Linked DNA regions of Homo sapiens. The protein of the gene in region 3 interacts with the protein of the main gene of each other region in a pairwise test. Each region holds a gene or a part of one and is shown on either strand. Other genes may lie near its edges. The genes, in order: TRIM46, TRIM5, USP15, BRAP, PHF7, PIBF1 and TRIM74.

Region 1 (4,330 bases), on a different chromosome or scaffold from region 3:
GATGGTGTGAGATAATGTTTGTTCACTAAAAAGTGTTACCTGCACACTGAAAAGGTCTGTGTGCATTCACTCACTGAACAAATATTTATTGAGCACCTATGTGCATGGTGCTATTCTAGGTGTTGGAGATACAGCAGTAAACAAGATGGACAAGGTTAATTATTAACTACCAGGCAAAGATTAATTGGCATCATTATTACTGTTATTACCATATATCCCAATGAGAGAGATGAAGGGAGGTGCAATGCTGGTGAAATGGGCACCGCCCGGAGACTGCAGGAAAGGCTCTTTGATGCCAGTATGTACCACCAGGTGGCACTGTGGAGCACCACCAGCGGATGTCTCCACTCCCATCTTGCCAGTGGAGGAGGGCACCAAACTGCTGTAGTGGTAGCATAGCACCCTTACCCACACCATTGTCTGACCATCACATTGTTCTTTGTGTCCCTAGGGCCTTATGTGCCCAGACCACAAGGAAGAGGTGACCCACTACTGCAAGACATGCCAACGCCTGGTATGTCAACTCTGCCGGGTGCGGCGCACCCACAGCGGGCACAAGATCACACCAGTGCTCAGTGCCTACCAGGCCCTCAAGGTAAGGACCCCCCTTATCCAACCCTAGTGCTAACTCACACTCTTACCCTCTTGCACCTCCTCCCAACTGCTGGCTTCTGCAGAGCTGGGCTTGATGCCCACCTCTTTCTTCCCCCTCAGGACAAGCTGACAAAGAGCCTGACATACATCCTGGGAAACCAGGACACGGTACAGACCCAGATCTGTGAGCTGGAGGAGGCCGTGAGGCACACCGAGGTGAGGGAGGGCACAGAGGTAGGCCCTGGGCCCTGCCTGGGAGTAGGGGCAGGAAGGGGGTGTGGGTGATCATGACCCAATCACCTTGTTGCTAGCTCAGGAAGCCCGTGAGGTGTCCAGGTTCTGGTTAAACCAGGTTTGCAGGAACACCAGTGCCCCAGGCCAGGCTGTACCTGGGCTGCAGGAGGGGGCAGGGTGGCTATAGCTCAGGAGAGTGCTCGAAAAACCCCATGCATAGCTCAAAAAACCCCACGCGTAGCTCAGATGCTCTCAGGCTCAGGTGCCTACCGAGGATGTCACGCATTCCCAGTGCTAGAGTGAGGTGATGACTGATACCTTCTGCCAGGTTGCTTGAGCTGGCTGACATGGGGATGGACAACTAAGGATGGCATAGATGCCAGTGGACATTAATTAGTGCAGTCCAAGTGGACATTAGGGTAGCCATGGCCTCGTTCATTTGGATGAGTCACTAAGGGGCAGAGATTATGATGTGGGGTTCCGGGAAGGTTGGCACAAATGACCAGGAGTTGAGTCCATCTAGAGGTGCCTTTGCAGCCATGAGCCCAGGCCCTGTAGGAATGGGTGAGTAGGATTTCCCCAGATCCCTTGTGACCTTAGCCATGCTGTGGCATCCAAGGAGGCCAGCACAAGTGCTGCCTCCAAAAAGAAGATAGTAAGTCACGCATCCTTTGGGTGTTGCTCCCTGGGCAGGTGAGTGGTCAGCAGGCCAAGGAGGAGGTGTCGCAGCTGGTGCGGGGGCTGGGGGCTGTGCTGGAGGAGAAGCGGGCATCACTGCTTCAGGCCATTGAAGAATGCCAGCAGGAGCGGCTGGCCCGTCTCAGCGCCCAGATCCAGGAGCACCGGAGCCTGCTGGATGGCTCAGGTCTGGTGGGCTATGCCCAGGAAGTACTTAAGGAAACAGACCAGCCTTGCTTTGTGCAAGCCGCCAAGCAGCTGCACAACAGGTACTCAGGGGCATGGGCTCCTAGGGGGGCAGGGACATCATGGATGTGACCAACATCTAGGACAATGTCTACAGTACTGCCAGGTGGAGAACTGGCATTCTAAGGATTCTCATGAGGCCAAACTGATACCAGCTCCCAAAGCAGTTCCCAAGGCTCTAGGGGCAAGCAAGACAGAATTGAGGGGAAGGGAGACTGCCCACATGGCAGTGCCTGACCCTTTCTTGCCCCCATCCCAGGATTGCCCGAGCCACTGAAGCCCTCCAGACATTCCGGCCAGCTGCCAGCTCCTCCTTCCGCCATTGCCAGCTCGACGTGGGACGTGAGATGAAGCTGCTGACAGAGCTTAACTTCCTGCGAGGTAAGGAGATGGCCAGGCCCCATGCCCAACCAGAGCCTTCTTCCCTTCCTCCCCAGCAGCGGGCCCGGGGGGCAGTGCCTACCGGGGACCTCCCCGGCCTCCTGCCCGGCCTGGCCAGCCATTCCTCCCACCCAGCCCACCCTGCCACACCGTCCTACCGCGCTCAGCGCTGCTTCTCCCTCTCTTTGTTTGTAGGCTGTGGCCACCGCGGACTCTGCTCCGGAGCACCCCAGGCAAGTCAGCGGCCCTGCCCCGGGGGCCCTGCCCGCCGCCGGGCCCCCTTCCCACCCCGCTGCTCCCACGCATCTCAGCCAACCACTCATTGCTTCCTTCTCTTTCCTGCCTTGCCCCGACCTCGTGGTCCTCCCACTGGACCAATGCCCTGTCTCCCTTCTGCCTTCTTCAGGCGCTTGCGTAATCCTGGCCCTTCTGACCTTTTGTCCTTGTGACCCTTGCCCTCTGGCCTTGCACTTCCTTTCCCTTGACCTCCAACCCCTGCCCTCAGCTTTTGCTGTCCCTCTGTTGTCCCCACTTTCCACCTCGCTGCCTCCTAAATCTCTCTTCTGAGCCTGGTCCCCTTCCTTCCTGCTCAGCGCCCTCTTGCCTGTGGGCTCCAGTGGCCTTTGCCTGCCCCTCCCTGGGGCTCCTCTTAATTCATAGAATAACTGAGCTGCAAGGGCCCCCAGAACTTACCTGATCTGATACCCTCATTTGACAGGGGAGGAAACTGAGGCCCAGAAAGGGGAAGTGACTTATTCCAGGCCAGAGTGAGGTAGCAGCAGCCCAGAACTAGCACACAGGTGTCCTGACCCCCAGCCCAGCGCTTTCCTGCCTCGTTCTCTCTTGGGCCCTGCCCTACCCCTCCTGTGCCCAGTTCCCAGATGAGCCCTTCCCCAGCTCCCTCTCACCCACACTCACCCCCCCGGCTCCCGCTGCTTTCCCTTTTCCTGCCTGCCCCTGCCCTCCATGCCAGGCCAGTGGCCAGGCCCTGACTGACACCCGCTGTCTCTTCCAACAGTGCCTGAGGCCCCCGTCATTGACACCCAGCGCACCTTTGCCTATGATCAGATCTTCCTGTGCTGGCGGCTGCCCCCCCATTCACCACCTGCCTGGCACTATACCGTTGAGTTCCGGCGCACGGATGTGCCTGCTCAGCCAGGCCCCACCCGCTGGCAGCGGCGGGAGGAGGTGAGGGGCACCAGTGCCCTGCTTGAGAACCCCGACACGGGCTCTGTGTATGTGCTGCGTGTCCGCGGCTGCAACAAGGCCGGCTACGGCGAATACAGTGAAGATGTGCACCTGCACACGCCCCCGGCACCTGGTGAGTGGGCAGGCACAGGTGGTCGTGCAAAGGGCATGGGGTATGCCAGGGCCTAGGCCCTGACGGTTGGTTCCGGTGGCCGCTAGAGAGGCCATATAACATAGTAGGTCTCACACACACTAGCTCTGGAGCTAGACTGCTTGGGTTCAAATCCCAGCTCTGCCTCTTGCCAACTGTGTGGGTGGCTTCTGGCAAGTTTTTACCCTCTCTGAACTTCAGAGTCCTTTTCTGTAGGGATAACGATAATACTGGCCAGGTGCAGCGGCTCATGCCTGTAATCCTAGCACTTTGGGAGGCCAAGGAGGGAGGATTGCTTGAGGCCAGGAGTTCAAGACCAACCTGGCCAACACAGCGAGACCCGATCTCTAAAAAAATAAATAGGCCAGGCGAGGTAGCTCATGCCTGTAATCCCAGCACTTTGGGAGGCCGAGGCGGGCGGATCACAAGGTCAAGAGTTTGAGACCAGCCTGGCCAACATGGTGAAACCCCGTCTCTACTAGGAATACAAAACTTAGCCAGGCGTGGTGGTGCGTGCCTACAATTCCAGCTACTCGGGAGGCTGAGGTAGGAGAATCGCTTGAACCTGGGAGGCGGAGGTTGCAGTGAGCTGAGATCGCGCCACTGGACTCCAGCCTGGACAACAGAGCAAGACTCCGACGTCTCGGAAAAATAAATAAATAAATAAATAAATAAAGGCCAGGCAAGGTGGCTCACACCTGTAATCCCAGCACTTTGGGAGGCCAAGGTGGGTGGATCCCCTGAGGTTGGGAGTTTGAGACCAGCCTGACCAACATGGAGAAACCCCATCTCTACTAAAAATACAACATTAGCTGGGTGTGGTGGCGCATGCCTGTAATCCCAGCTACTTGGGAGGCT
Region 2 (4,330 bases), on a different chromosome or scaffold from region 3:
GTCCGTGACTCTACTTGGGGAAGACATTTGGCAATGGCTCATGATTCTGTCCTCAGTGTTCAACTTTTGGCAGGGAGTTTGAGCTTGGGCTGAGAAGTAATACAGGCAGGCATGAGTGTCCTGCATAGCTGTGTGAAAGGTAAGCTACATCCAGGTAACCCATTTTGATGCAGGATGAACCTCAATATACCCATTCAAGGTCATTGTTTTAAAATGTCATGAAGGAAAAGAAATAGGAAAAGGCAGCTTTCCTAAGACCTACTCTCCTGCTACTATGTCCCCTCCTTGTGAGAACTCCCCAAAAGAAACAGCTCCTTTTCTGGCTAACAGCCTCTGCCTGGTAGACTGAGTGCCCCTTTCTCTTCTCTTATCTCTGAAGACTCAAATACAGTATGACAAAACCAACGTCTTGGCAGATTTTGAGCAACTGAGAGACATCCTGGACTGGGAGGAGAGCAATGAGCTGCAAAACCTGGAGAAGGAGGAGGAAGACATTCTGAAAAGCCTTACGAACTCTGAAACTGAGATGGTGCAGCAGACCCAGTCCCTGAGAGAGCTCATCTCAGATCTGGAGCATCGGCTGCAGGGGTCAGTGATGGAGCTGCTTCAGGTAAAAAGTGGAAAGAAGCCTGAGCACTGAGATTAAAGAAAAGTGAAGGCTATTTCCTTCTCTGCGTTGCTGTGCTTTTTCTAATATTAACAATGTTCTCTGCAGGACCGCTTTTCTGAATCAATTGCTGAAGTTATAAGAATAATTGAATGTAGAAGTAGCAAGAGATAATCCCATTTTTATTAATTTATCCAGAGCAGTAGAAAAATTTGACGTAGTGGAGATGATCAATTAGCTCTAGTCATGTTTGATAGGTTCCTATTCTCTGTATTCTAGTGTTGAGACTTACCAGTGCAGCTTTTCATTGCTCAGCTTAGCCACTGGCAAACAAATACACGTCAAAATACAAGATGCTTTTTATTTTTTTCCTTCATGGAATTAATTGAGACTTTTTCCTTTTTTTTTAATTTTCTGAAAAGAATTAAATAACTGCTATCATTTCTTCTTTATATGCTCAATAGAATTCACTAGTAAAGGCTGGGCGCGGTGGCTCACGCCTGTAATCCCAGCACTTTGGGAGGCCCAGGAGGGCCAGTCATGAGGTCAGGAGGCCCAGGCGGGCCAGTCATGAGGTCAGGCGATTGAGACCATCCTGGCTAACACGGTGAAACCCCGTCTCTACTAAAAATACAAAAAATTCTAGATCCCTGAGGAATCGCCACACTGACTTCCACAATGGTTGAACTAGTTTACAGTCCCACCAACAGTGTAAAAGTGTTCCTATTTCTCCACATCCTCTCCAGCACCTGTTGTTTCCAGACTTTTTAATGATTGCCATTCTAACTGGTGTGAGATGGTATCTCATTGTGGTTTTGATTTGCATTTCTCTGATGGCCAGTGATGATGAGCATTTTTTCATGTGCTTTTTGGCTGCATAAATGTCTTCTTTTGAGAAGTGTCTGTTCATGTCCTTCGCCCACTTTTTGATGGGGTTGTTTGTTTTTTTCTTGTAAATTTGTTTGAGTTCATTGTAGATTCCGGATATTAGCCCTTTGTCAGATGAGTGGGTTGTGAAAATTTTCTCCCATTTTGTAGGTTGCCTGTTCACTTTGATGGTAGTTTCTTTTGCTGTGCAGAAGCTCTTTAGTTTAATTAGATCCCATTTGTCAATTTTGTCTTTTGTTGCCATTGCTTTTGGTGTTTTAGACATGAAGTCCTTGTCCATGCCTATGTCCTGAATGGTACTGCCTAGGTTTTCTTCTAGGGTTTTTGTGGTTTTAGGTCTAACGTTTAAGTCTTTAATCCATCTTGAATTGATTTTTGTATAAGGTGTAAGGAAGGGATCCAGTTTCAGCTTTCTACATATGGCTAGCCAGTTTTCCCAGCACCATTTATTAAATAGGGAATCCTTTCCCCATTGCTTGTTTTTCTCAGGTTTGTCAAAGATCAGATAGTTGTAGATATGCGTCGTTATTTCTGAGGGCTCTGTTCTGTTCCATTGATCTATATCTCTGTTTTGGTACCAGTACCATGCTGTTTTGGTTACTGTAGCCTTGTAGTATAGTTTGAAGTCAGGTAGTGTGATGCCTCCAGCTTTGTTCTTTTGGCTTAGGATTGCCTTGGTGATGCGGGCTCTTTTTTGGTTCCATATGAACTTTAAAGTAGTTTTTTCCAATTCTGTGAAGTCATTGTTAGCTTGATGGGGATGGCATTGAATCTGTAAATTACCTTGGGCAGTATGGCCATTTTCACGATATTGATTCTTCCTACCCATGAGCATGGAATGTTCTTCCATTTGTTTGTATCCTCTTTTATTTCCTTGAGTAGTGGTTTGTAGTTCTCCTTGAAGAAGTCCTTCACGTCCCTTGTAAGTTGGATTCCTAGGTATTTTATTCTCTTTGAAGCAATTGTGAATGGGAGTTCACTCATGATTTGGCTCTCTGTTTGTCTGTTGTTGGTGTATAAGAATGCTTGTGATTTTTGTACATTGATTTTGTATCCTGAGACTTTGCTGAAGTATACCATTTGACCCAGCCATCCCATTACTGGGTATATACCCAAAGGACTATAAATCATGCTGCTATAAAGACACATGCACACGTATGTTTATTGTGGCATTATTCACAATAGCAAAGACTTGGAACCAACCCAAATGTCCAACAATGATAGACTGGATTAAGAAAATGTGGCACGTATACACCATGGAATACTATGCAGCCATAAAAAATGATGAGTTCATGTCCTTTGTAGGGACATGGATGAAATTGGAAATCATCATTCTCAGTAAACTATCGCAAGAACAAAAAATCAAACACCGCATATTCTCACTCATAGGTGGGAATTGAACAATGAGATCACATGGACACAGGAAGGGGAATATCACACTCTGGGGACTATGGTGGGGTGGGGGGAGGGGGGAGGGATAGCACTGGGAGATATACCTAATGCTAGATGACGAGTTAGTGGGTGCAGCGCACCAGCATGGCACATGTATACATATGTAACTAACCTGCACAATGTGCACATGTACTCTAAAACTTAAAGTATAATAAAACAAAAACAAAAACAAAAAAAACACAACAGAAGAAAAAAAAAAAAAAAGAAATGCAAGAAAGCTAGCACCCCCAGGGGCATCCTTCAACCAATGGGGTTGGGAGTTGATGGAGAAATGCCTCAGCTCTCAGTGTTTCGGGCAGAGATTCTGGGGCATTCCCAGGAGGTTTGGTGGGATCATGATCCCATAATGCCCAGAAACAACCCCAACAGCTTACTCATACATTGGCTTCTCCTCCTCCCTGTCTTACCTCCCTGCTCCCTCATTCCTGCTTCCTGGGGTCAGGTAAATCACCTGGACCCAGGTCCTTGTCTCAGGCTCTACGTTCAGTGTTTCTCATGCTGTATTCCTCGGAACCCCAGGGCACCTTAGGATGTGTCTACCCCTCTCTCACCTGCATTTGATTTAATGCTCTGTTGTCATCATCTTGAAATGTTTAATAAATTTTGAACAAGGGGCCGCATATTTTCATTTTGCATTGTACCCCACAAATGAAAAAAAATAATACAAAAAATTAGCCAGGCGTGGTGGCGGGCACCTGTAATCCCAGCTACTTGGGAGGCTGAGGCAGGAGAATAGTGTGAACCCGGGAGGCGGAGCTTGCAGTGAGCCAAGACTGCACCACTGCACTCCAGCCTGGGCAACAGTGCGAGACTCCATCTCAAAAAAAAAAGAAAACTGCTCTTATCCCAATTTTCAAGAATACAATACATTGTTAACTATAATTGCCACATTCTGCAATAGATCTCTTGAAGATAGTCATCTTTTCATTCTGAAGTTGGTGTCCTTTTACCAATATCGGCCTCAACTCTCCCTACACCCCAGCTCCTGGAAACCCCTCTTCCACTCTCTACTTTTATGAGCTCAACTATTTTTTACATCTACATACTAAGTGATGTTATACAGTATTTGTCTTTCTGTTCCTGACTTACTTTACTTAAAGTCCTCCATGGTGTGAGATAGTCTTCTGCATATGGCTATCCAGTTGTTCCAACACAACTGAGAATGGTCCTACCACTGAGGGCAACCTCGCATTTAGATAGCTCGTAGACTGAGTCCACTGCACAGATCTAGAGCCTAGGCTGTGAGATACGGCCTGGAGGCTTATCCATAGATACCAGTCTGGAGTCTGGTGTCTTCAGACCTGCCAGGCTGGGTTTTACTAGGTTGAGCCCAGTGTTAGGGTCTGAGGTAACATTTGGTGCTCATTTTCCCCTCTTTCTCCT
Region 3 (4,330 bases):
GTCAATGAAATTCACATTGCTGGAAAAATAATTTAGAGCCCAATTTATGGAAGAGCACTTATCATATACCTTATGGACTAATGTGTAAATTAATGCAATTTGCCACTATTGATATAGATTACCTTATATTATTGGCATGGGAGAATATTATCTCTAACAAATGTGCTGTAGAGAAATAAAACATCTACATTTATTTTTTGTTGCAGTAAATTTATACTTATTATTCTACGCTCTCTTGCTCCATTACACTCATTGGTGTATATCTGCAAAGTTATAAACTAGAGAGGTAAGGATGTGGTTTGGCACTGTTATAGTTTCTCACCATTGAAAAGAATGTTGACAATCTTGTACTTATAAACGAGTGAATAAGTGAATATCTAAAGGATATAACTTTAAAAATGTGAACACATATTCCCCAGGCCAAAAGTAAAAGCAGGTCTTTATTGGCTCTGCTCACAGATAAGGGATAGTACTTAGCACTCTCCAGTGAAATACTGATATGAGGGCATTGTGTTCAATGAGTTCATAAAGAAAACATAAAGCAGCAGAAAAACAAATTGCTTAAATTTGCATAACTGAGTACATACCTAGTATCTACTAGACTTTAATTACTTTGAATAAAAGGACTGTGTGTTTATGAACACTACATATACCCTGTCTTTGTTGACAATAAACCCAAATACATCCCTGAATGGTAAGATCATAATTTTGTTCAAATATAGCTTTCATATAGACATCGTGACTATTATGCACTAACAAACTGAGCTATTTGGCTAAAAATTTACAGAAAACAATCTTCTAAAGCAGGAATCATATCTTTTTTGTTTAGCCAAAGAGCTTTATACTTAGTAGGTGCATAGTTAAGTATCTTGATGAATAAAATTTTTGAATACTTCTTGTGCATTAATATTTACCAGCCACAAAAGCTGGAAATACAAAGGTTTACAAGGTCTCTGTCTTCAAAGACTTGTAGTCTAGGGATAAAAGATAAAAGTAAGCCAAAAGTTATAACAAAATTAGTTAAGTGTTAGAATTTAGGGAAAGAGAGGTAGAAAAAGAAGAAGTTACTTTCACTGGGATGGGTCAAGTGTCAGAAGAGGATTAACTGATTAATAAATAAGGGAGAAAAGATAGTGCTTTACCCACAAAATATAAATAATCCAATTATAACACTAGGTAACGGAATCAGGCAGACAATTTGACAGTAAGACTTACCACAGGACTTTTGCACAGAATAAACAATATGTGATACTTCAAAGTATTAGAAATTAGAGAACATCACTGAACAAAATATTTTTAGTCTAACTGAATTTCTACTTTCTTTTAAGTTCCTAAAATGCCTAAAAATTACAGGTATTTAAATACACTACTATCACACTATGAATTAAAAGTATTAGCTTTACTTCCAATAGCCACTAGTAAAAAAAAATTACAATTAACACTAAAGAAAGTTGAAGTTTAAAAAAATTAAAAATATTATGTTGATCTTCATAAGCTAATATTCACCCCAATATTATAAAAATAAACCTCTATAAAAAGCCTTTTGAGAATTTTTTATAAGACACACGTTGCTCTTTCAAGACTGTAAAAAGTTACACTGATTTCCAAAGTATTCAGCTTATAAAATCTCTTATACAAATAAACATTATTGATTGGGCTTGATAATTCAATACTTAATTTTTATAATAAGGACTCAACACTAATTTTTTAATAAAAATAACAAATGCAAAAAAAAAAAAAAAAAAACAAAACAAACCAACCCATGATTTACCTGCATAGGTTTGGTAAGTGGATCCATTCTAACTAAGTAAACTTCCAAGGTGCGTTCTTTTTTCATGGGCAATGGAAGTGTCAAGTAACAAAAAGGATCAAATGTTACTGAAATCTTAGCACACTCAGGACAAACTAAAGTTGATTTGAAAAGGCCATGAAATATATCTACTATGATAGAATCATTTCGTTTTAAATGGTTTTCCCAGGCTTCTTCGGCAACCACCTACAAGGATAATAGACACAAATTAGAAAGAGGTATCACAAAATTATAACAATGGTGACAATAGGATCATGAAATTTACCTTATCTGGCCTTCCATCTGCATCTTTTAATTGTATATATGGTTTTTTCCTAATTCTATTCAAATCCTCATGTAATCCATCTAATAGGAAAGCTAACAGTTCTTGACAGTCTTGCTGCTGATATCCAGAGAACTGAGGTGCAAAACGTCCTACCTGTGTCTGTAAGAAATGCAAAACCATCAAATCAGTTCTAGGAACAGGGTTGATTTTTAAACATATGTACAATAGATTCTCATTATTCATGGATTCCACATTTGTGAATTTGCCTGCTTTCTAAAATGTATTTGTAACCCCAAAATCAATTCATGGTCATTTGTAGATATTTTCAGAGTGGCAAAAAATTTGAGTCACCTGATATGCATGTTACCAGCTGGGGTTGAACAAGGTGATGCTTTGGCTTGTTGTTTCAGCTCTGAATCTATAAACAAGTGTCCTTTGTAGTTTATTTAGTGTTATGTTTTTTCACATTTTTGTTTGTTTTGTTGTTAATTTCAGTGTTTAAAATGGTCACTAAATGAAGTACAAACATGCCAGCTAGTGTTCCTAAATGCAAGAAAGCTGTGATGTGCTTTATGGAGAAAAAGTATGTGTTAGATATGCTTCATTAAGACATGAGTTATAGCACTGTTTGCTGTGAGTTCAATGTTAAGGACTCAACAATATATATTAAACAAGTTGTTTTTAAACAGAAACACATGCAAAACAAAGTTATACATTGTCTGGTTGACGAAAATGTTGTGAACAAAGGCTTGGAGGAATCAAACCCTATAGTTTCCCTAGGAGTAATGGTTCAGTAGTTGTTATTTCAGTGTTTGTGGCAGCTTCATTGAACATAACTCCTGTGAATAATAAAAATTGTATACACGAACAACAGGAATATATATGAATTATATTTTGTTTTGCATTCCTAGTAAGCACTCAACAAAGCTTATCTGGGACAAAATAGATCAACACATGTAATCTTTAATATATAAAAATGTATTGATCTTTGTTTGGTCATAGATTTCATTGTCATTAATTGTTGTTTCACTATTTGTCAAAGGATTTTCCAGATGTCCTTAATTCTTAGCTTTAGGTATTCCTATTGCCTCCTCCTATAAATGTCTGGTAGGTAGACAGGAAGAGGCAGGTTCTCATCCTTGCTATATTACCACATAAAGATAATTACGTATCTGAAAGCATTTTTAAGATAACTACTCTAGGCTCTCACTTAGTTTCTATGCGCAAAAGGAGGATGAGTATCACAGAGATAACAGAAACATTAATGTTCATATTCAATTTTCCTAATCTTTCATCACTAAGTATTTTTGTTTTTGGATGAGACTGAAAATAAATGTAATAGTATGAATCATCATCTGACAGAAAAAAAGTCACACATAAAGAACCTATTTACACATAATTTTAAGAGAGAAAATCTACCAAAATAAAACCAATTAGAATGCTAGTAAGAGCTGAGAGATGGTTTGTCTGGACTAGTTTGTCCAAAGTTTAGAATGTTAAGGAAGACAATACAGAGGCATTTTGATTTGCTGGTTTTTTATTTTCTAAGAACTAGTATATAGCTAATAAAAAATGTTGTCCAGTAGATGTCCTCTATCAATGCCATTTAAATTACTTGTATAAATAACGACTTAAAACTGCTTATTCTCTCTACAAGTTTAAAACTTCTCAAAGTTTCACCTATATAATTAAGTAGGCATTTTTTTAACAATATAAAGCTAAATTTCAGCCATAAAGCTAAATTTCAGCTCAATTCTTATTTGAACAATAAATTATTTGATAAGTAACAATTCACACATGTGAATAACCTTAAAAGTTTAAGAACTATATTGAAAGTACATTTAATTTTTAATGCTTGGTTTGCAGACTATTTTCATTTTGATAATTTTTCAAATTCATAATGACTCTCAAAGTAAAATGGGTTCTTAGAGTTCAGTAACATGCCCAAATTTAGTCTTTTACATTTGTATAGAATATTCACATAGGTTTTCCAGAGATGTACTATATTCCAAAACAACTATACAAACGCTCATTGCTGTCTCTATACTCATTCTTGTACCACACCAGTGTTTTTCAACTTTTTTTCATTATTCTCTCCATTCCAGATTTAGATGTAAAACAAAAACAAAAACAAAAACAAAACAGATAAACTGTTCCATATCCCTCCCACCTAAATTTTATATCACAGATGTACTGTATATCTATTTATGTACTGTGTTCCTTTGGAGGGCCACAAACCATTGTAATAGCTACTA
Region 4 (4,330 bases), about 49 Mb from region 3:
CAATGGCGCAATCTCAGCTCACCACAACCTCTGCCTCCTGGGTTCAAGCGATTCTCCTGCCTCAGCCTCCCAAGTAGCTAGGATTACAGGCATGTGCTACCATGCCCTGCTAATTTTGTATTTTTAGTAGAGACAGGGTTTCTCCATATTGGTCAAGCTGGTCTTAAACTCCCGACCTTAGGTAATCCGCCCGCCTAGGTCTCCCAAAGTGCTGGGATTACAGGTGTGAGCCACCGCGCCTAGCCACTAGTTATATCTTGAGCATTGTTTCTTCCTGGTGCCAGTTCAGTCAGCCTCAGCTATAACCCACTTTCTGTCCTAGTTGCCCATCTAACAAAAATACTCATGACTAGTATTTAGTATTATTTTGTGTGGAGTATAATAGAAAACAGTTAATGGATTTTTTCAACATTGTTTTTATTGGCTTTTTGTAAATTGAGACATGAATGCCTGATAGAGCACTGGTATCTTCCACATGATGTTCACGGTGCAGTGAGATATCATGTGCATTTCAATAAGTACATTAACACCTTTGTGTTTAGCCAGGTGCGGTGGCTCATGCCTGTTATCCCAGTACTTTGGGAGGCCAGCATGGCCAATATGGTGAAACCCTATGCCCACTAAAAATACAAAAATTAGCTGGGCATGGGGGTGCATGCCTACAATCCCAGCTACTTGGGAGGCTGAGGCAGGAGAATCATTTGAACCTGGGTGGCAGAGGCTGCAGTGAGCTGAGATCGCGCCACTGCACTCTAGCCTGAGTGACAGAGCAGGACTCTGTCTCACAAAAAAAAAAAAAACCTTTTTTTTTTACTACAGATTTTAAATCCAATTCTTAGGAGCAACCTGGAGAAGAAAGGGTACTTTTTGAATGATTTAAATCTTTGGGAAATGGGGATAAGGCAGGTTGTTTGTTGGAGTAAAAATACATTATAGGCTGAGCACGGTGGCTGACGCCTGTAATCCCAGTACTTTGGGAGGTCAAGGCAGGCAGATCACCTGAGGTTGGGAGTTTGAGACAAGCCTGACCAACAGGGAGAAACCCCGTCTCTACTAAAAATACAAAATTAGCTGGGCGTGGTGGCGCATGCCTGTAGTCCCAGCTACTCAGGAGGCTGAGGCAGGAGAATTGCTTGAACCTAGGAGGCTGAGGTTGCAGTGAGCTGATACTATGCCGTTGCACTCCAGCCTGGGCAACAAAAGCTAAACTCTGTCTCAAAAAAAAAAAAAAAAACAAGCTGGGAGCTGTGGCTCACACCTGTAATCCAAGCACTTTGGGAGGCCAAGGCCAGTGGATCATGAAGTCAAGAGATCGAGACCATCCTGGCCAACATGGTGAAGCCCCGTCTCTACCAAAAATACAATAATTAGCTGGGTGTGGTGGTGCATGCCTGTAGTCCCAGCTACTCGGGAGGCTGAGGCAGGAGAATCGCTTGAACCTGGGAGGCAGAGGTTGCAGTGAATTGAGATCGCACCACTGCACTCCAGCCCAGGCAACAGAGCAAGACTCTGTCTCAAAAAAAAAAAAAAATTATAAATAATCAGACATGAAATGAAGTCCTAATTGTAACCTGTAAATACTTAGCTCTTTGATCATCTAAGCTTTAGACATAAGAGCGGAAAAGGACATGAGGCAGATCCCAATTTCTCTGTTCTCTGTTTTATCAAGATTTTGTATATTTTTATTTTGTATATTTTATTTTAAGTGATATCCTTAGTTATGATAAAAATAGCATATAAGAGGAGGAGGATATAAAATCCAGTGTTTGACTTTTGGGTTCTGTAACAGCTGTCTTTTATATTTAACCTGCACCATTATCTTTTGGTGTCCTGGATAGGTGTCCTGTTTGCCGGTACTGTCAAACGCCCGAGCCAGTAGAAGAAAATAAGTGTTTTGAGTGTGGTGTTCAGGAAGTAAGTAATGGGTGATGGAAAAGAACAAAGAATGCAGCTTTAATTGTCATGAGTTTTCTTCTGCCTGGTATGACTTAAGTTCTTTATTTTTAATTTATTTTTTATTTTTTATTTTAAGAGACAGGGCTTACTGTGTTGCCCAGGCTGGTCTCGAACTCCTGGCCTCGAGCGGTCCTTCCACTTCAGCCACCCATAGTGCTGGGATTGCAAGTGTGAGCCACTGCACCCAGCCTAAATTCTTTAAAATTTTTTTTCTTTTTGTCTAGGGTTGGGCAAGACATATGAATACACAAATTATGTTACTCCTGAGCTAAATTTATTCCTTTTTTCTTTGCACTTTTGAAAGGCTTAGACTTTTACTGATGAATTGTGAATTTTTTTCTTGCTGTTCACATAGTGCTCCTTAGAAATCAGCAAAAAAAAAATGACCCATAAAAGCATCCTTGATTGTTGGGTTTTAAACATACATTTAATCACTCAGGCTCCTGTAGAAACAGTTTTTTCTTTTTCTTTTTCTTTTTTTTTTGAGACAGGGTATCATTCTGTTACCCAGGCTGGAGTGCAGTGGCATGATCATAGTTCACTGTAACCTCAAATACCTGGGCTCAAGCCTTCCTCCCATCTCATCTTCCCAAGCAGCTGGGACCACAGGTGCATGCCACCATGGCCTAGTAGGTTTTGTTTTGTTTTGTTTTTGTTTTTTCTAAAAAATTTTGTTTTTGTTTTTTCTACAAAAAAAACATTTTGTAGAGTTGGGGTCTTGCTATGTTGCCCAAGCTGGTCTTAAACTCCTAGGCTCAAGCGATACTCCTGCCTCAGCCTCCCAAAATGCTGGGATTACAGGTGTGAGCCACTGTGCCCAACCAACAATTCTGTCTTCTAGTGTCTCAGGTTCCTTCCCACTCTGAGTGAGCTGGATCGATTATTTGTTTGTTTGTTTGTTTTAAGACAGAGTCTTGTTCTTATCACCCAGGCTGGAGTGCAGTGGCACGATTTCGGGTCACTGCAACCTCCACCTCCTGGGTTCAAGCGATTCTCTTGCCTCAGCCTCCTGAGTAGCTGGGATTACAGGCAGCTGCCACCACGCCCAGCTAATATTTGTATTTTTAGTAGAGATGGGGTTTCATCATGTTGGCCAGGCTGGTCTCGAACTCCTGACCTCAGGTGATCCATCTGCCTCGGCCTCCGAGCCATCGCGCCCAGCCAGATCATTTATTTTTATTTAACTAATTAAGATCTTACCTCTTCCGGCAGAATCTTTGGATTTGTTTAATATGCGGCCACATAGGATGTGGACGGTATGTCAGTCGACATGCTTATAAGCACTTTGAGGAAACGCAGCACACGTATGCCATGCAGCTTACCAACCATCGAGTCTGGGACTATGCTGGAGGTGAATACCACTCTCTTTTCTAATTTGGACTCATTCTGTGTGGAAACTTTGCCTTCACAACGCCTTCACTTTCCCTCCCAGCTTGAAATGTCATCTTTTGACAGCTGTTGCAAACCCAAATTCTCAGTTTCCCTGAGGGCACTATTTTTCTAGGAATGTCTTGAATCACACATTATAAAGGGAGTTAATACTTCCATTCTTGCTTTCTCCCTCCCCTCTAAAATTCAAATGATTTGACACTTTTAAAGAAATATTGTAAGGCATTTAAATTAGATCTGAAAAAAAAATTTTGTCAGAGTTAAAAGTGTACAGAGACCCTTTTCATTCTAAAGAAACACACTTTTGTTGACTCTTTCTGTAGATAACTATGTTCATCGACTGGTTGCAAGTAAAACAGATGGAAAAATAGTACAGTATGAATGTGAGGGGGATACTTGCCAGGAAGAGAAAATAGATGCCTTACAGTTAGAGGTAAGAGATTTAATGAGTTATCACTCTATCTGTTTCTACTGCTCTTTACTATTCTAATTTGAAATATTTGTCATTTACCTGGATGTACATTTTTTTTTTAAAGTTTGGTCATGGCCGGGCGCAGTGGCTTATGCCTGTAATCCCAACACTTTGGGAGGCTGAGGCAGGTGGATCACCTGAGTTCAGGAGTTCAAGACCAGCCTGGCTAACGTGAAACCCTGTTTCTACTAAAAATGCAAAAAATTAGCTGGGCATGGTGGCACACACCTGTAATCCCAGCTCCTCGGGAGGCTGAGGCAGGAGAATCGCTTGAACCCGGGAAGCAGAGAATCGCTTGAACCTGGGAAGCAGAGGTTGCAGTGAGCCGAGATCGGGTCATTGCACTCCAGCTTGGGCAACAAGAGCGAAACTCTGTCTCAAAAAAAAAAAAAATGTTTGGTCATTGCTGTGAGGTGTTATTAAAATATTTTTATTCTGTTTTTCTTCTTTGAAAGTCTAAATGTCAGCTGGGTGCAGTGGCTCACACCCCTGTAATCCCAGCACTTTGGGAGG
Region 5 (4,330 bases), on a different chromosome or scaffold from region 3:
AGCTGTCATACCTGTCTTACCAGTGCTGTCCCTAGTAGCAAAGTGCTGACTCTGGAACCTTACTACCCAAATTCATATCCTAGCTCTGCCACTTGCCAATAACTGTGACAGAAGGCACTACATTTCTTTATGCCTCAGTTTCCTCATCTGGAAAATGTACATAATAATGGCATGTACTTTTTAGAGTGTTCTGTAGATTCATTGAGCTACTGTAGATTAATTGAGCCAATACATGTAAAGTGCCAAGAATAGTGCCTCGCAACAGGAAATACTTTTATCAATTTTGGTTCATTTCAGTATGCTTTGTAAAGGTGGTACCACCTGAGATTCAGAGTAGTTGGCAGAAGAAGCAGTAAAAAAGTAAAAGAGGGTTTGCTCTTGCATTCATTCAGTCAACATAGGCAGTACAGGCACTGGGGAGAGAAAGATGCTTACAATCCGGTTCCTGCCCTCAAATAACTCAGTGAGTATGTTTTGCACTTAAAAAAAATATGAAATATGGCCAGGTGCAGTGGCTCATGCCTGTAATGTCAGCACTTTGGGAGGCCGAGGCGGGTGGATCACCTGAGGTCAGGAGTTCAAGACCAGCCTGGCCAACATGGTGAAACCCCGTCTCTACTAAAAATATAGAAATTAGCTGGGCGTGGTGACAGGCGCCTGTAATCCCAGCTCCTCGGGAGGCTGAGGCAGGAGAATTGCTTGAACCCAGGAGGCAGAGGTTGCAGTAAGCTGAGATCGCACCACTGCCCTCCAGCCTGGGCAACAGAGCAAGACTCTGTCTCAAAAACATATATATGTGAAATATGAAAAGAAGCTGATGTCTTAGGCTTTAGATATGTTGGTCCTTCATCAGACCCATGAATGGCATTTTAAGAGAAATGTTAAAAAGGTTATCAACAAGATCCCCAAAGAACACCTTGTGCTTCTTATTTCTCTTGTATAGAAAATCTGCCAAGACTAGGAGGGTAACCCAGAGGAAACCGTCTTCAGGGCCTGGTAAGAAAGACTGGAGCTTGTGTTCGCCCACTGCCTCCAGCCCTCAGCAAAGAAGGCCACCTGTGTGGGGCAGTATACTTGCTTCTTCTCTCTCTCCCAGCCCTACTTCCTTCCTAGATTCTCTAAGATCTTGAGGACTCAGGAACTGCCATTTTAAATTACCATGTCTGAAGTTCAAGAAACAAGTTATTAAAGTCACTTTAGAACAAAACAAAACCAAAAAAAAATGAAGTGAGCAGTTGTGGCCAACTTTTTCATTGTAACCAGAATTATGTGACAGACTAATTGATACCACATAAGACCTCATCCCAACCTTCCTCCTTGCCAAAATGACCCTTTTCCTAGTATTCTACTCCTTCCTGACTTAGAGGAATGGTTACATTCTCACCCTTCTCTTCCATTCTTAATGGTCAATTTGAGCCAAATTCTGGGTGTCCTCTCTTCCAGTTTGCTGGCTATGCCTTCGAGAACCTGGGGATCCCGAAAAATTAGGGGAATTTCTTCAGAAAGACAATATCAGCGTGCATTATTTCTGTCTTGTGAGTATGAGGCCTCCTTTGCTTTGAATATCCTATGGCTTTTGGTGTACTGACTGTTCTCTGTTACATTCATCCTCATATCCACAGCCTTGTTTTTTTATTTTTCTTAATAGCTTTTTTGTTTTAAAATCTATTTTTAGGCTGGGTGCAGTGGCTCACGCCTGTAATCCCAGCACTCTGGGAGGCCGAGGCAGGAGGATCTCTTGAACCCAGGAGTTCAAGACCAGCCTGGGCAACCTTGTCTCTACAAAAAAATTAAAAAAAAAAAAAAAAAAGCTGGGTATAGTGACAAATGCCACTCCGGAGGCTAAGGCAAGAGGATCGCTTGAACCCTGGAGGTGGAGGCTGCAGTGAGCAGTGATCACACCACCACACTCCAGCCTGGGTGACAGAGGAAGACCTTGCCTCAAAAAAAGAAAAATATATGTGTCTGGTATAAAATCTTGACAGTATAAAGTAAGTTCAGTAAAAAAGTCTCTTCCCTAAACAATGTTCCCAATCCTTCTCCCTCTCCCCAGAAACAAATGCTGTCAAAGTTGTAACATCCTTCCAATTGCTTTTTCCCAGTATTTTTTTATTAGGTATAACTTTCATACTGTAAAAATCACCAATTTTTTTCTTTTTTTGAGAACGGAGTCTCACTCTCTTGCCCAGGCTAGAGTGCAGTGGCGTGATCCCGGCTCACTGCAACCTCTGCCTCCCTGGTTCAAGTGATTCTCCTGCCTCAGCCTCCCAAGTAGCTGGGATTACAGACACCTACCACCATGCCTGGCTAATTTTGTATTTTTAGTAGAGACAGGTTTCACCGTGTTAGCCAGGCTGGTCTTGAACAAAATTCACTAATTTTAAGGGTCCAGTTTGATAAGTTTTGATAAATGTATGTCCCCAAATAACCACCACCCCAATCAAAATAGGTAATATTTTCATCACCCCAGAAAGTTCCCTCCTGCCTCCTTTTCCAGTCAATCCCACTAGACGTAATCACTGTTCTGATCTATGGATTATTTTTGGCTATTCTTTTACTTCATATAAGTGAAATCATATAGTTTATAATCTTCTGTATCTGGCTTTTTTCTCCCAACACAGTGTTTTGGAGATTCATCCATGTTGTTGCATGCATTCATAGCTTGTGCCTTTTTATTACTTGGTAGTATTCGGTTGCATGAATAAGTTACTATTTGCTTATCTGTTCACCTGTTGATGAACATCTGAATTGTTTCCATTTGAGGACTATTATGAATAAAGCTACTTTAAGCATTCATGTACAAGTCTCTTTGTGAACATGTGCTTTCACTTCTCTTGTGCAGATGCCTAGAAGTGGAATTACTAGTTGTATGCTAATTAGATATTTAACTTTATGTGAGGTTGCCACATCACTGTCCAAAGCGGTTGTACCAGCTTACACTCCTACCAGCAATTTATAAGAAGTCCAGTTGCACAGTATTCTTGCCGGAACTTTGTTTTGTCAGTGTTCTTAATTTTAGCCATTCTACTGGGTGTGTATTGGTATTTCATTGTCGTTTTAATTTCCATTTTTCTGATGACTAAAGCTTCTTTTCATGTGCATATTGGCCATTCACATATTTTCTTTGGTTTTTTGGTTTTTTTTTTTTTTTGAGATGGAGTCTCGCTCTGTCGCCCAGGCTGGAGTGCAGTGGTATGATCTTGGCTCACTGCAGCCTCCACCTCCCGGGTTGGAGCAATTCTCCTGCATCAGCCTCCCAAGTAGCTGGGACTACAGGTGCCTGTCACCACGCATGGCTAATTTTTATATTTTTAGTAGAGACAGGGTTTCACCGTGTTAGCCAGGATGGTCTCGATCTCTTGACCTCGTGATCTGCCCACCTCGGCCTCCCAAAGTGCTGGGATTACAGGCGTGAGCCACCGCGCCTGGCCCGGCCCACATATTTTCGTTTGTTAAGTATCTGTACAAATATTTTTACCCATTTAAAAACACTGAGTGGTGGTCGGGCACAGTGGCTCACGCCTGTAATCCCAGAACTTTGGGAGGCCGAGGCGAGCAGATCAAGAGGTCAGGAGATGGAGACCATCCTGGCTAACACGGTGAAACCCTGTGTCTACTAAAAATAAAAAAATTAGCCGGGCATGGTGGCAGGCGCCTGTAGTCCCAGCTACTCGGGAGGCTGAGGCAGGAGAATGGCGTGAACCCAGGAAGTGGAGCTTGCAGTGAGCCGAGATCACGCCACTGCACTCCAGCCTGGGCGACAGTGCAAGACTCCGTCTCAAAAAAAAAAAAAAAAAATTGAGTGGTTTTATTATTGAGTTGTAGGAATTGCTTATATATTTCAGATACAAATTCTTTTTCAAATATATGTATTGAGACTATTTTCTTCCTAGTCTTTGGCTTGCCTTTTCATTTTCTTAATGGTGTCTTTCAAAGAACAAGTTTGTAATTGTAATGGAGCCCAGTTTATCCATTTTTTTCTTTTATGGTCAGTGCTTTTTGTGTGTTGCAAGAAATCTTTACCTACCCATAGAATTGCCTTGGTGCCTTTGTCAAAATCAATTGACCATATATCTGTGGATCTGGATAATCTATTTATGTCATTGATCTATGTATCTATTCTTACACAAGTCCCCACTGTCTTGATTATTGTGGCTTTATAGTATATTGAAATTCAGTATTGTTAAGTTCTACAATCTTTTCCAAGATTGTTTTGACTATCAGGTCCTTTCTTTATAAAGTTTATATTAAGCTTGTCAATTTTTCTTTAAAAAAAAAGTCTACTGGGATTGTGATTGGGATTGCATTGAATTTATAGGTCAATTTGGGA
Region 6 (4,330 bases), on a different chromosome or scaffold from region 3:
GGTTGCAGTGAGCCGAGATCGTGCCATTGCACTCCAGCCTGGGTGACAAAGTGAGACTCTGTCTCAAAAAAAAGAAGTATCAGTATGATCTCATCCATAGTGTGTTAAGCCTCCTCCTCATTCTCCCTCTACTTTCTCTGCCTACTCAAAGGGCCTAGAAATAATGACCAATGTAGCCATGACCATAGCACCCAAATCCTAAATTTCTAAATAGCATTCCCCACTAAGAGATCAAGACTTCTTAGACAAAGAGCTGAGGCAATGAAATTACAAAACCAACAAACGAAAACCAAAACTAGGAACATTATGTTATGCCAGAAAATAAGGAACTTTTAGTAAAAAAAAGTGATACATTCAGATCTAATTTAATGATTTTAACTGCTACATAAAATTATATTGCAGAGTAAATCTCAATTTATTTTCCATTCTGCTACTGAAAAGCATTTGAATTTCTTTTAATAATGACACAATTAACATCCATACACCTGTTTCCTTTTGTACATTTGTGAGAATTTACCCGGGGCATAAAAGGGCTTTTTTTTCTTCCCCAGTTTATCTTATATTTTATGACCGATGTTTTTAAACTCATTCATTCTGCTGAGTGAACTAAAAAGGGTCATAGTTTGAGTCCTTTCTTGTTTTACTATTCCATTTCTACCATAAAGATGCTTATCATGCTTTTTGATCAAGGTTATATTTTTCTTTCCTAGGTTTTTATTATAGTAAATGAAAACATATGTAAAAATAGAGGTGATATAATGAACACCCATGCTCCCATCACCCAAATTCAGTAATTATCAACTCATGACTCATCTTGTTTCAATGATCATCCGTGGCCCCGATGGATTATTCTGATGACTGTGCTTTTTAGTTTTCTCTTTTTATATTGTATCTGTCATTGCTATAGACTGATAGTGGCAGAGGGGACATGAAAATACCAACTGGTATCATCTTAGCATCATAATCTATTTCATTTTTATTCTTTTTTATTTTATATTTTTAAGAGATGAAGTTTCACTCTGCCACCAGGCTGGAGTGCAGTGGCATGATCATAGTTCACTGCAGCCTCGAATTCCTGGGCTTAAGCAGTCCTCCCACCTCAATCTCCCAAGTAGCTGGGACTAAAGGCATGTGCCACTATGCCCTCTACTTCATTTTTAAATGCTTCTTTTGAACTCCAGCTTTATTCCAGAGCCCACTGAGCACAGCTCTCATGGATTTAAAGCTCCAATAATTATCATATTTTGGCATAATGCCATATACATAAGAAATACCATGTGTCAGTCATAATGGGAGTAGAAATGACAATCTTCTATCCACAAATCTTTGCAAATTCACATACGGTATTATGCAATTTGTAATTTAAATTACACAATTTAAATCATTCATTCATTTAACAAATATTCACTGACTACTACATTTTAAGAATTATTTCAAGTGGAGTGAACAATTAAGATAAGGTCATTCCATTTATATTACATATGCAGTACATATATATTTAAAGGCTTTCATATTTATTTGATCTTAGTTTATATAGTGCAGTTATCCGTATTAGCAACATCTCATAAATGATGAAACTTAGGCTCAGAATGAAAAGAGATGTACTGAGGGACATACAGCTAAGTAGCAGCTCATTAAATTACTGAACAAACAACAGAAAAGAATATTCCAGTTAAAAAAAGGTATTTGCTATAAGTAGCAAATATTAGGAAACATATTTTCAGAAAGTGTCATTTTTTTTTTGAAAGAGTGTGTGTCTTTTGTCAGGAAGAAACAGCTGAAAAAAACTTCAGGGAAAACTGTTAAGTATTTAAATTGATTCCACTACATAAAAATAATCATCAAATAACACTGAAAAAATATTTACACACGTGTGATTTTACTGGGTTTCTATCTCTGTTTACATTTTAAGACAGCAGTGACATCTAAATAAAACAAAAACAACCAATATAAAAATACAATATAAACCCAACAAACTGCCAAAACTGCATGCATTTGTGCAAAGAAGAATAAGGTAAAAGTAAAATTAACAACTGATTGTTGGTAAAAACTCAGGTGACTTTGATGCACCCTAAAAATAGAGAACTACTACTGCAGCCATTTTAACTACTTACCTCTTGACTTTATCATAGTTCTCTTGACGGTAGTCACCTTGCTGAATTAACTGTTTTGTGTCTGCTAATTCTAAGGCCAAACGTTGACATCTAATTTGAACTTCAGAGTAGTTTTTTCGATCTTCCTCATATGTCTATAAACCAAAGGAATAATAACACATTTCAGACTAAACACTTAACATAGTTGCCCAAATTCTGTATTGAAGTCTTCTGTTAAGCTGTGATTGTCCTTGTAATTAAACAGTAAAAAAAATTCCTCAATTTTTAAATTTAGTAATTTTTCCCTATTCAAAGGCAAGTAATCTTAAGTTCACAGAGTGGTCTGTAAACTCAGTTGTTTAAAACTTAAACTGTTTTTCAAATAAATAACACAACAACTATGTTTTAGTTACTAGGCTAAAACATAAAATGACTACAAATGTTAAATGACTTTTTAAAAACATTTACTGAGTTACTATCAGATGCTGAAGATACAGAAGTGAATAAAACACACTTCCTGTTCTTGAGGATTTTACAGTTTAGAGATGAAAAGTCATATGGATATCAGTATCTACAATGAAAAATAATTAATGAAGAGATTAAACATGCAGTTCCAATTGTGTTACTCAGAAAAAAAGGAATCGTGTGACCCTCGAAACACATCTTTACATTGTTCTTCCCTCTACTCTCCCCATGTCAGTAGCATGTTAAGAAAGGCATTGCTGATATGGGAAGAGCAATGGAAGTAAAAACCTTAAAGTTGGTCACAAGGTTCTTTACAATCTGGTGCTGCTTCCTACAAGCCCCATTTCTCACCATTCCTAACATTCACACTTCACCCTCCAACCCTAATGGAGATCTGAAATTGTCTGAACCCACTAATGCTGCTTCTAACCTGTTCCCACTGCCTGAATACCTGCATATAATCTAAATGCTTGTCTCCTTCAGAGCACTGATCTCACTGTATCATTACCATCACATTAGTTTTCTCTTTATCTCACCAGAGTGTAAACATCTTAAGGGTGGGGATTTTGTCTTGCTCAACGCTGGACCTCCACCACTTTAAACACTGCCAGGTATATAATAAGAATTAAATAAAAGCTAAAAAAGAAATGATTAAATATGGGAAGCTGGGAGGGGAAGCAGACGGGACTAAATTCCTACTTATTTTCCTTCTTTGAACTCATCAAATCTTGCAACCAATCATCAACTCCACCTTCAGAAGCTGGCATGTTAAATGCATCCTGTGTTAAGTCATTACTGCTTAAGTAGCTGGCCAGCTAAATGAGGTCATGTTCACTCCACACATACTGACTGGATCATTTCTGTGTGACTGGTCACGGATTAGGCACTACAGATACAAAGATGAGTAAGACGATTTTGTCCTTTTTAAACTACTAAATGTAACTTTGATTATTTTAGTCCCCAAATTTCTATCAAAGGGCTATTTGAGAGAAGTAATTATGGAAAAACTACATTCAGTGTGTTTTGCTTTGGTATGGTATTATGTTCTTGTTCTACGCTGAAGTTTTCCATGAGAATGGAATGTTACTATGGTACTTATTATGGGATTACAGCTGAGGATACGCTATCACCTCCCGAAAGATCATCACATATATCATTTCGGACCTAAGTCCTACAAGAATCTTTAGTTCTTCTGAAGAATGCTTTATCCTTCTAAACATCATTAATCATGTCACTGTTTTGGAAGAGAGTATAGTGTTATGGCTAGGAAGGCAAGCTCCAGAATTCAACTGTCTAAAACTGAATTCCTGCAGTAAGACTCTGTGCACGTTAGTTTACCTCTCTATTCTGGTGTCCTACCTCAGAGTTCTTGTGAAGCATATATCAAGTAATACATGTAAAGTGCTTATAAAAATGTCTAACGTAGTAAATGCTGATTAACTATAAATTAATATTGTTATAATGCTTCCTCTTTGCTTTGGCTTCCAAAGAGATCATAGCCAAATTAACAGCTTAATAACTGTGCAAACGCCATGACAGAATTTGGAGGAACATAAATACAAGGAATATAAACATTAAAGGATGGGCAAAAAACAGGGATCCCAAAAAACCCAAAGGAGTATTCGCAGAAACAATGGGTAAACCAGGGGTGTGTGTCAGGAAAAACAGTGGAAGACAGTGCTTTGAAGCAGTCAATAATATTGAGAAACACTACTGATTGGTACTAAGAAATATTACCGAGAACCAACAAAAAGCCTTTAAAGTATTTAGCG
Region 7 (4,330 bases), on a different chromosome or scaffold from region 3:
CTCCTGTTTATTGAGATCTTGAGATGCTCGATTGATGGGTGCATTGATTTGCATAACTTAGTTCTTCTCACGGGGAAGGAATGAGTCCCGTCTGTCTGCCTGGGGAGGGTGACATTGGAATGCTGTTCTTAGGCCTCTGTGAGATGTTCTGATGCCTCATTCTCCAGAGCAAGGACTCTGTCCGTTTATGCCAGCAAGTGCTTGATTCTTTACCCAACTCCCTTCCTGAAAGCCCCTTGCAGCTCTCTGGTGCTTGGGCACGATCCAAGCCAAAAATTCTGTACATTGCATGGGTATAAACCGACGGGGGCTCTGGTCAAGTCATGGAGTAGATGGTGGTCCAGGAGTCCTGGTTGGCACCCCCAAGGCTAGGTCAGATTTGGGGCCCGGGCAGTCCAGGAGAAGTGCATTTATGTCAGCTTGGGGAGGTCGCAAATCCGTGCTGTGTCCAAGCCCACCAGGAATGGATTCAGGTGTTTATAGGTGTGGGGATTCACCAGGTTAAACCCAGGCCCGTGTGAGCACCACTGGCCCTAGAATTAGCCTCACCTGGCGCCGGCCTTTTTGTGATGGCTCCTGATTAAATACCCACTAATTCTGGATCTGCTGGTGACCACAGAGTTCACCTGATGGGTCCCCTACAGGCAGCATTCAATCCAGGAAGTGCCAGCATCACATGGTGACTTCTGGTAGCTGTAACATTTAGTGACTGTCTCCATGTCATGCACAGGGGTGACATCGAGACCCTCTTATGCCTGGGAAGTTCCTGCTGTCAATGCAGAATATTCTCTTTTTTTTTTTTTTTTTTTGAGACGGAGTCTCGCTCTGTCGCCCAGGCTGGAGTGCAGTGGGCGATCTCGGCTCACTGCAAGCTCCGCCTCCCAGGTTCACGCCATTCTCCTGCCTCAGCCTCCCGAGTAGCTGGGACTACAGGCGCCCGCTACCACGCCCGGCTAATTTTTTGTATTTTTAGTAGAGACAGGGTTTCACTGTGTTAGCCAGGATGGTTTCGATCTCCTGACCTCGTGATCCGCCCGCCTCAGCCTCCCAGAGTGTTGGGATTACAGGCGTGAGCCACCGCGCCCGGCCCAGAATATTCTTTGAAGAAAAAAAAAACATTAGAGATGGGATTTCACTGTGTTGCCCAGTCTGGTCTCAAATTCCTAGCCTCAAGTGATCCTCCCATCTTGGCCTCCTAAAGTGCTGGGATTACAGGCATGAGCCACTGTGCCCAGCCTAGAATATTCTTTTTTTTTTTTCTTGAGATGGAGTCTTGCTCTGTTGCCCAGGCTGGAGTGCTGTGGCGCAATCTCGGCTCACTGCAACCTCCTCCTCCCAAGTTCATGCCATTCTCCTGACTCAGCCTCCGGAGTAGCTGGGACTACAGGTGCCCGCCACCATGCCCGGCTAATTTTTTTTGTATTTTTAGTAGAGACAGGGTTTCACTGTGTTAGCCAGGATGGTCTCGATCTCCTGACCTCGTGATCAGCCAGCCTCGGCCTCCCAAAGTGCTGGGATTACAGGCGTGAGCCACCGCGCCCGGCCCTTAGAATATTCTTGAATTATCTTATTTTTTATTTTTATTTTTTGAGACAGAGTCTCACTGTGACACCCAGGCTGGAGTGCAATGGCATGATCTCAGCTCACTGCAACATCAATCTCCCAGGTTCAAGCGATTCTCGTGCCTCAGCCTCCCAAGTAGCTGGGACTACAGGTGTGTGCCACCACACCTGGCTAATTTTTGTATTTTCAATAGAAATGGGGTTTCACCATGTTGGCCAGGCTAGTCTCAAACTCCTGACCTCAAGTGAAGTCCCACCTCAGTCTCCCAAAGTGCTGGAATTACAGGCGTGAGCTACTGCGCCCAGACTATTCTTGAACAATTTAACCTGTTTTGGACTCAAGGGTACCTGGGTGGCTCTGGTTCCCGCCCTGGTTTCCCTGGGAGTGCTTGTGGCCATTGGGATACTCCCAAGAAGGTGATCCAAGGAGCTGAGAAGGGGAGGGATCAGCTGCTCATGGGGCCATGGCCTGTTGCCTCCAGGAGGAGCTCGCAGCCCTCTTCTCTGAGCTGAAGCAGGAGCAGAAGAAGGTGGATGAGCTCATCGCCAAACTGGTGAAAAACCGGACCCGAATCGTCGTGAGTGCCCCTTCCCTCTGCCCCTGCCTGGGACCGGCCACCTTCACTTTCCTGTAGAGCTCAGTTCTCATTGGTCCTTTACAGAAAACCATGCCTTCCATATAAAGCCAGAACTCAAAGCATTCCGGGGCGGGGTGGGGAAAGCGCAAATCCTCTCAGGGGAATTCAACCCAGTTGTCGTTAGGACTGGCTCCAAGTTGGCTTTTGCCCTCTGTGTCCTTGAGACTGAGATAACCCAGGACTTGAGTCTCGGGGGTAAACAGCTGAAAGCATGGGCGTGACTCCTCCGCCCCTGTGCCACCTGTGTCTGCTTGACCTTGCCAGCCTGTCATGGTGCCCTCCCAGTACCTGGGTGCGCAGGCGTGGAGAGGCTGGCAGCCCTGGGCCCTGGCTGATCTCCTGAACTGAGAGGCACATGGGGCTGGGACGCATAGTGCCCCGGCCCTGGAGGTGGCTGTGAAACAGAAACAGGAGCCGAGCAAGATCCAGAAGCACTTGGCCTCCCTCATTTACCCTCCTCACCCTTGCGCGGCAGGCGGTATCAGCCCTGCCTGGTGGAGGCGGAGCTCAGGGTTCTGCAGGGAGTTCTGGCTCCCTCACAGCAAAGCCCGCTCGCCCAGGGCCTTCCTGCTTTCCTTCAGTTGTGGAACTCTGGGATATGCACATTTAATAGCTGAAATAGGCAAAGTGGGGTGTGGTGGCGTGCATCTGTAATCCCAGCAACTCGGGAGGCTGAGGCGGGAGGATTGCTTGAGGCTGGGAGGTCAAGGCTACAGTGAGCTATGATCGTGCCACTGCGCTCCAGCCTGGGCAACAGAGTGAGACCCTGTCTGTTAAAAAAAAAATTAAAAATTAAAACAGGCCAAAGCAGAGCCTCTCCATTTGAAATGGGAGCTGGGGCCACCCTCCCCACGGCCACCGCCAGGGCTCCCCATGCATGGGGTGAACTCCCTGCCCGGCGCCAGGCCATGCAGCCTCCCCTGAGACTCAGGTCCCAGGACCAACCCGGTCAGGAAGGCCCTGGGGACACCGAGGCCAGCCAGACAGAGCCTGGCAGCTCGGCTGTGACTCTGCAGTGAGCAGCCCTCCCTGTCCCAGAATGAGTCGGATGTCTTCAGCTGGGTGATCCGCCGCGAGTTCCAGGAGCTGCGCCACCCGGTGGACGAGGAGAAGGCCCGCTGCCTGGAGGGGATAGGGGGTCACACCCGTGGCCTGGTGGCCTCCCTGGACATGCAGCTGGAGCAGGCCCAGGGAACCCGGGAGCGGCTGGCCCAAGCCGAGTGTGTGCTGGAACAGTTCGGAAATGAGGACCACCATGAGTTCATCTGGGTGAGTGGACAGGGAGGCGTCCCATCCCCATACCCGCCAGGGCCTTCCCCTTCCCAACAGTGCCCTGGCTTCCCACCTTCTAGCCTTAACCTCCCTCTCTCTTGCCTTCCAGAAGTTCCACTCCATGGCCTCCAGGTAATAACCTTGGAGAGAGCTCAGCCAGGGTCTGGTGGCTGCGGGCACGGGCATCTCAGCTCCACTGGTTCCTCCATTCAGCTTAACCAGCGCCTCCCAAGCAGCTGCCTATAGCTGGCTCTATAACTGAGCCTGGGGAAGATAGAGGAAAGTCACGTCCCTGCCTTCAAGGGTCTCGCAGACAGGTGGGGAGGCAGATGGTGAACTGTGGGTACCTAGAACAGCAGAAGTTCACTCAAGCTACAGAAATACTAGAGGAGGGTAGCTCATGCCTGCAATCCCAGTACTTTGGGAGGCCAAGGCAGGAGTATTGCTGGAGGCCGGGAGTTCGAGACCAGCCTGGCCAATGTAGTAACACCCCCGTCTCTACAAAAAATACAAAAATAAAAAAATTAGTTGGGCATGGTGGCATGCGCCTATAGTCCCTGCTACTCATAAGGCTGAGGTGGGAGGATTGCTTGAGCCCAAAGTTTGATGCTGCAGTGAGTCATGATCATGCTACTGCATGATCCAGCCTGGGTGACAGAGCGAGACCCTGTCTCAGAAAACAAAACACTAGAGGAGGAGCAGGTGTCTGGGAGGCCTGGCAGAGGGGCACACGCCTGATGGCTGAGAAGGGCCCAGGACCCGAGTTTGCCAGGCAAGCCGAGGGAACAGTCCTGTAAAAGGGGGAGTGGCGTGCGGACTCTGGTTATGAGAAGTTCAGGGTGGCTGGATGTAAGGCAG

What was found.
Region 1: the proteins of USP15 (region 3) and TRIM46 interact in a two-hybrid assay, tested with the Homo sapiens proteins (one large-scale study listed by BioGRID).
Region 2: the proteins of USP15 (region 3) and TRIM5 interact in a two-hybrid assay, tested with the Homo sapiens proteins (one large-scale study listed by BioGRID).
Region 4: the proteins of USP15 (region 3) and BRAP interact in a two-hybrid assay, tested with the Homo sapiens proteins (one study listed by BioGRID).
Region 5: the proteins of USP15 (region 3) and PHF7 interact in a two-hybrid assay, tested with the Homo sapiens proteins (one large-scale study listed by BioGRID).
Region 6: the proteins of USP15 (region 3) and PIBF1 interact in a two-hybrid assay, tested with the Homo sapiens proteins (one large-scale study listed by BioGRID).
Region 7: the proteins of USP15 (region 3) and TRIM74 interact in a two-hybrid assay, tested with the Homo sapiens proteins (one large-scale study listed by BioGRID).

The regions. Positions count from the first base shown.
Region 1 is NC_000001.11:155,176,481-155,180,810, forward strand, and holds part of TRIM46 (tripartite motif-containing protein 46), read left to right. Parts: intron 1-451; coding exon 452-595; intron 596-714; coding exon 715-810; intron 811-1,521; coding exon 1,522-1,775; intron 1,776-2,011; coding exon 2,012-2,133; intron 2,134-2,328; exon of another isoform or gene 2,329-2,366; intron 2,367-3,151; coding exon 3,152-3,454; intron 3,455-3,954; coding exon of another isoform or gene 3,955-4,022; exon of another isoform or gene 4,023-4,199; intron 4,200-4,330.
Region 2 is NC_000011.10:5,674,484-5,678,813, reverse strand, and holds part of TRIM5 (tripartite motif-containing protein 5), read left to right. Parts: intron 1-379; coding exon 380-610; intron 611-4,330.
Region 3 is NC_000012.12:62,381,744-62,386,073, reverse strand, and holds part of USP15 (ubiquitin carboxyl-terminal hydrolase 15), read right to left. Parts: intron 2,235-4,330; coding exon 2,076-2,234; intron 1,997-2,075; coding exon 1,772-1,996; intron 1-1,771. UniProt on the Homo sapiens protein: Hydrolase that removes conjugated ubiquitin from target proteins and regulates various pathways such as the TGF-beta receptor signaling, NF-kappa-B and RNF41/NRDP1-PRKN pathways.
Region 4 is NC_000012.12:111,658,184-111,662,513, reverse strand, and holds part of BRAP (BRCA1-associated protein), read left to right. Parts: intron 1-1,838; coding exon 1,839-1,914; intron 1,915-3,168; coding exon 3,169-3,307; intron 3,308-3,668; coding exon 3,669-3,778; intron 3,779-4,330. UniProt on the Homo sapiens protein: Negatively regulates MAP kinase activation by limiting the formation of Raf/MEK complexes probably by inactivation of the KSR1 scaffold protein.
Region 5 is NC_000003.12:52,413,053-52,417,382, forward strand, and holds part of PHF7 (E3 ubiquitin-protein ligase PHF7), read left to right. Parts: intron 1-943; coding exon 944-996; intron 997-1,443; coding exon 1,444-1,535; intron 1,536-4,330.
Region 6 is NC_000013.11:72,819,767-72,824,096, reverse strand, and holds part of PIBF1 (progesterone-induced-blocking factor 1), read right to left. Parts: intron 2,249-4,330; coding exon 2,115-2,248; intron 1-2,114.
Region 7 is NC_000007.14:72,959,160-72,963,489, reverse strand, and holds the end of TRIM74 (tripartite motif-containing protein 74), read left to right. Parts: intron 1-2,044; coding exon 2,045-2,140; intron 2,141-3,238; coding exon 3,239-3,469; intron 3,470-3,581; coding exon 3,582-3,608; 3' UTR 3,609-4,005; downstream 4,006-4,330.